2 separate regions of the Homo sapiens genome follow, and region 1 is linked to region 2. Evidence: fine-mapped expression QTL. A gene starts in region 2. The other region holds a variant in brackets. All regions are shown on one strand. Distances are from middle to middle. Region 1 has its middle 59 kb from the start of FBXO28. Region 2 holds the start of TP53BP2 (tumor protein p53 binding protein 2).

Region 1 (2,913 bases), 210 kb after region 2:
CCATCTTTGGGTCCACCTGTGGCTTTGGTAAGTCCCAGGACCAGAGTATGCCCTTCATGACCCCATCCACCTTAACACCTGCTACTCAAAGATGGGGTTTCACCAGCCCTTCAGTCCATCTTCTCCAGCCTGGGCTTAGTCAGGAGATGTTTCAAAGCCTTCTTCCTTAAATTCATCTTGCCACAGTACTATCATTATTTACTTTTCCCAAACAAATTGAAAATGAGAAGGTGTGTCCAAAAGGAAACTTGGAAACAGAGACACCAAAAAAATTCAGGTAATGCATGGCACTCGCCTAAGAAGTCCTTCCACTTAACTGGATTCCAACACATTGGTTATTCTTTGTTTCCCTGGTTCTTATACTGCTTGTCAACGATCAAAACGTCAGAAAATAATTAACATCATCAACAGCAGGACAAACTGACAGTTATGAGTTTCCTGATGTACAGCCCCAGGAAGGATGAACCACCACTTCCGGCTATTGTCACCATGTTCTCATGTATAGCCTGAATCTCATCATGAGAAAACATGAAACAAACCCAAACGGAGAGACAGTCTCTAAAACTACAGGCCTACACACCTAACAGCAAGGTCATGAAAAATAAACCAAAGCTGAGGAGTTGTTCCAGATTAAAGGAGACTAAAGAGTCATCTCAAGGAGATTATTAAGACAAGTGGTAAAATTTGAACAGGGACTGTATATTAGATAACAATATTATATCTAGGTTAAATTTCCTGAATTTTCTAATTGAGCCACGGTGATAGGGTTTGGCTCTGTGTCCCCACCCAAATCTCATGTCGAATTGTAATCCCTGCATGTCGGAGGAGGGGCCTGGTGGGAGGTGATTGGATCATGGGGACAGACTTCCCCCTTGCTGTTCTCGTGATAGAGTAATCACAAGATCTGGTTGTTTGAAAGTGCATAGCACTTTCCCCTTCACTCTCTCTCTCTCCTGCCTCACCATGGTAAAACACACTTGCTTCCCCTTCACCTTCCTCCCTGATTGTAAGTTTCTGAAGCCTCCCAGTCATGTTTCCTGTACAGCCTGCAGAACTGTGAGTCAATGAAACCTCTTTTCTTCATAAATTACCCAGTCTTAGGTAATTCTTCATAGCAGCCTGAGAACAGACTAATACATGT[A/G]GTTATGCAGGAGAACGTTCTTAGGAGATTTCTGCTAAAGTATTTTGACATAGAAGGGCACCAATCATTTAGGAAAAAAGTAATGTGAATACGTAGAGAGTAATAACATAGGGAGTGATAGGCAAATGTGGCAAAATGTTAAGAATTGGGGTAAAGCAATGTGGAAATTTTTTTCATAACACTGCTGTAAGTTTGGGATTATTTCTAGAAAGAGAAAAGAGAAAACACAAAAATGGAACATTCAAAAATCAGATCCTTCACCTCTATTTTCTGATAGATTATTCATGTAAGAAAAGGTGAGAGTTTACCTGCAACTCTCCTATCAGTAGCATTTTTAAGTTGAGTAGTAATAGTGATCATTGGGAAAGGGATTCGGTTATTTGGTTACATGGACTGTATGAGTTCATTTTCACACTGCTATGAAGAAATACACGAGACTGGGTAGTTTACAAAGGAAAGAAATTTAGTTGACTCACAGATCCACATGGCTGAGGAGGCCTTGGGAAACTTACAATCATGGTGAATGGGGAAACAAACAAGTCCTTCTTCACATGGTAGCAGGAGAGAGAAGAAGTGCCAGCAGGGGGAATGCCAGACGTTTATAAAACCATCAGATCTCATGGTACTCACTCATTATCATGAGAATGGCATGGGGTGGAACCACCCCCATGATCTAATTACCTTCCAAGAGGTCACTCCCCCAACATGTGGGGATTACAATTTGGATTACAATTCAAGATGAGATTTGGGTGGGGACACAGAGCCAGACCATACCGTGGGTCTACCAGCTTTTTTCCCTCATTAGAGAGAAGGCATTGATTTGCCTCATAGGTTCTCCTAATTAATCCTGAGGTCCTGTACCCATCTGGTCCAATGGAGAGTTTGCCCTTCTATGTTCACAAATAATAGTAGTGGATGAGCCAGGCGCGGTGGCTCACGCTTGTAATCCCAGCACTTTGGGAGGCCGAGGCCAGTGGATCACCTGAGGTCAGGAGTTTGAGACCAGCCTGGACAACATGGTGAAACCCCGCCTCTACTAAAAATACAAAATTAGCCCTGTGTGGTGGCGCATGCCTGTAATCCCAGCTACTTGGGAGGCTGAGGCATGAGAATCGCTTGAACCCGGGAGGCAGAGTTTGCAGTGAGCTGAGGTCACACCATTGCACTCCAGACTGGGCAACAAGAGCATAGTATATCCACTACAAAATAGTAGTGGATAAGTATTAAATGCTTATATATGAAACACTGTACCTTCTTAATTTTTATTTTATTTTTTAAAATTTATTTTTGAGACAGTGTCTTACTCTATCGCCCAGGCTGGAGTGCAGTGGCATGAATGGCTCACTGGAGCCTCATCCTCCTGGGCTAAGCAATCCTCCCACCTCTGCCTCCTGAGTAGCTGGGACCACTCAGCTATGCACCACAGGTATGCGCCACCATGCCTGGCGCTAGTTTATTTATTTTTTGTAGAGACAGGTTTCCCCATGTTGCCCAGGCTGGTCTTGAACTCTTGTGCTCAAGTGATCCTCCCACTTTGGCCTCCCAAAGTGCTGGGATTACAGGTCTGCACTACCACACCCAGCCATGCTAACCTTTTAATAGCATTAAGGCATTTAATTCTCACAAGAATACTCTAAGCTATGTACTATTATTTACCCATTTTTACAAATGAAGAAACTGAGGCACAGAGAGGGCAATACATTTCATGACCTCACAAAATGACTTGGTGGATGAGCCAGGAATTGAAATCAGGTGAATCTGGCACCAGCGTC
Region 2 (2,907 bases):
GCAGGACAAAATATCCCAAACCCTCTAAACCCAATTACTAATTCTAGTGAATTGTTAAGTCGACCCAGTGAGAGTTTGGGACGCCCTCCATGACACAAGCAGGGGGCCAGGGAACAGCATATTATACTCTGTATGTATGACTGCAAACTTTGTCATCACTCCATTCCACAGACTTCATAAAAGTAAAAGCTTTTTGTTTCTTTGTCTGAACAAATGGAGCCACAAGCATAGGATGCCTGCAAGATGTCCCCACTTCAGTGGGAGAGGTGCAAATACAACTTCCACGAAGAAACTCGCTACTGAAGTCTGCAGAAGCCACCGCAACACACCGCAAACCTCCATTCCGCGATCGCTGAATGACAGAGACATTTCTGAAATGTCTCAAACCTGCTGTTCATCTGTGGCCTGGTGGCCGTGTCAAAAGCCTGCGGAGCTCCTAAAGAAGGCACTAATCCTCTCCGGAGGTCTTGCTAAAAGCTGTGGGAAACGAAGGGAGCCAGGCACGTACGCTTTCCTGCAATCTAAAACTTCCGAGATTGCATTTACCAAAACCCCTTTCCACAAAGAGGTAAGGGTGACTTAGCTGCTACTGTGGATATCAAGATCGAAATTCAATTAAAAACAAAGCAAAGGTACCCGTTCCAGTAACGTATGTTTCACTCCAGTAAAAAGTAAAAAGACACAGCAAAGAACAAGGTCCCCGGTTCCCGTATTCTTGACCTTCAAGAACTGCAAAAAAGTCAAGACCCAGTGAAAGACGAAAAGTTTGAGTGGCTGCTGGGCTCGCGGGCGGCTCGCCTGACTCCGGAGCAGCTGGAGGAACCCGCCTCGAGGTTAGGGTCTCGCCGCGCCCCCACGACGGCTGTGGGCGCAGAGCCCAGAGGATGGAGCCTCCCCTTCCTGAAACCCGCTCGAAGCTCGGAAAGCCCCGGCCCCTCCGCGCGGGCTGCGGCCCCCAGGCTCCTTCCCCGACGCGCCCGAGGGCGCGGACCAGCCCCCGGCACGCGACCCCGCACACTTCCGGGCCCGACGCCCTGGCCGCTCGCCCACTTACCGGCATCATCTTGGACCCGAACCGCATGGAAGCGGGTGGCCAGACTGCGGCCCCGGCCGAGCTGAGGTGCCCCGGAGGGTCGCGGATGCGGGGGAGGGGAGCGGAGAGCGAGGCCGCCCGGACCTGTTGCGAGGCGGCGGCGGCGGCAGCGGCGGCGCGCGGGTCCGAAGGGCCCTCCGCGCGGGCTGGGGCACCAACAAGCCCCGGGCTCCCCCGCCCCGGCCGGGCCCCCTGACGCGGCTTTGTCTCTTCGACGCTCGTGACGGTCGGGGCTCCCTCCTCCGCTCCGAAACCAACTAATCCCGGGTCGGGCCCCAGCCGAGCCCGTGCCGGCTCCGCCCCCCGCGCCGACCCCGCCCGCGGCGCGCCCGGCGGCCTGGGGGAGGGGCGGCCGCGGGAACGGGAGCTGCGCGCGCCTGCGCGGGCCCGGCTGGGTAGACGGGGAGCGGCGGGAGCCGGCCGCCTTTTCTTTCTTCGCCCCGGACTGAAGTGCGGTCGGGGCCGCGCGGCGGAGCGGCTGGAGCGCGCGCCTCCTAGCGGAGCCGGGGCAATTGGAAGGCCGCGCCTCAGGAAAACAGGATGGTAGTGAATGGCACCGAGCCGCCCCAGGGCTGCCGCCGTCACCTCCTCGGCGGCTCCGAGTCGTGCGAGGCAGGGGACCCTTTGCCTTCAGAACAGGGCGCCCGACGTTGGGCGCGTGGACAGAGTCCTCCGGCGGCCGCGCCGCTGGGCCAGGCGGAGAGAGGCGGACGGACTTCAGGGGAGGCCCGGGCCACGCCGCGGAAACTACCCGACTCCCTGGAGGCGGCCAGGACCGACCCTGTCCCGACAAAATGGAGTTCCCCGTGTGGCTTCAGCTCGCGGCGCGTTCCCAGAGCTCCTCAGTGATCCGGCTTTCGGATTGTTCGCCTTTCATCTCATTTGCCGTTGTCCAAATTCTAATTTAAAACTCATGTGTTACTTGCTGTAAGGTTAACAAACGTACACCGCAAACTGGATAAAGGGATAACTTTTATGTTGTGTATGTTTTACCACAATAAAAATAAATTTTGTAAAAATGTGTCAGGCAGCATTCTGAGGAGCTTCCCTGGGGGGTGCTGGGAACACCCTGCAAACAGCCTCCGATACGGGGAGCCGGTGGATACCATCCTTTTCCAGGGAGGGAGGCCAAGGCCTAGGGAAATGGCAGGGCTGCCTTCCAAAGAGTAGCAGAGCGGGTTCAGGCTTTTATTCCACCTTCCAGAGAGACACATACTGCGGGAACCCTAACTCCAGGAAGCTTTGTTCTAGTAAGTTGTCAGTGCAAGTTCACTCAGAATCACTTTTCTCTGCCTTTATACATGATTCTAGAACCTGAAGTGGGGTAAATCCCCTGGGTTTATCTAGTATCAAGAACAGACAATTCTTTCTTAGCCCACCATATCCCTTACCAGAATCTCCATCGAACTCCCTATTGCACCATCCCAGATACTGTATCTGGAAATACTAAATTACGGTTAATTCAACTAGAATTTAACGTTCTCGCCCGGGCGCAGTGGCTCACGCCTGTAATCCCAGCACTTTGGGAGGCCGAGGCGGGCAGATCACCTGAGGTCAGGAGTTCGAGACCAGCCTGGCCACGTGGTGAAACCCTTGTCTCTACTAAAAATATAAAAATTAGCCGGGCATGGTGGCGCATGCCTGTAATGCCAGCTACTCGGGAGGCTGAGGCAGGAGAATCTCTTGAACCTGGGAAGCGGAGGTTGCAATGAGCAGAGATCACCCCACTGCACTTCAGCCTGGGCAACGAGAGTGAAACTCCATCTGAAAAAAAAAAAAAGAATTTAACGTTCTCAAAAAATCTGGTTTATAGT

The links. PIP is the estimated chance that this variant, and not a neighbour inherited with it, causes the effect. A credible set is the group of variants that fine-mapping cannot tell apart.
Region 1: its variant is the best candidate, but not a certain one, in a credible set for the expression of TP53BP2 in whole blood (TOPMed, PIP 0.81).

What each region holds. Positions count from the first base shown.
Region 1 is chr1:224,053,187-224,056,099 of GRCh38, forward strand. No RefSeq gene overlaps it. Among named protein-coding and RNA genes, the nearest start is that of FBXO28, 59 kb to the right of the region's middle. The variant A/G (reference allele first, on the strand shown) is at 1,142.
Region 2 is chr1:223,844,600-223,847,506 of GRCh38, forward strand. It overlaps TP53BP2 (tumor protein p53 binding protein 2), which reads right to left and starts at 1,348. Exons shown (of 18, transcript NM_001031685.3): 1 at 1,055-1,348. The coding sequence starts at 1,081. RefSeq lists a silencer at 1,176-1,485.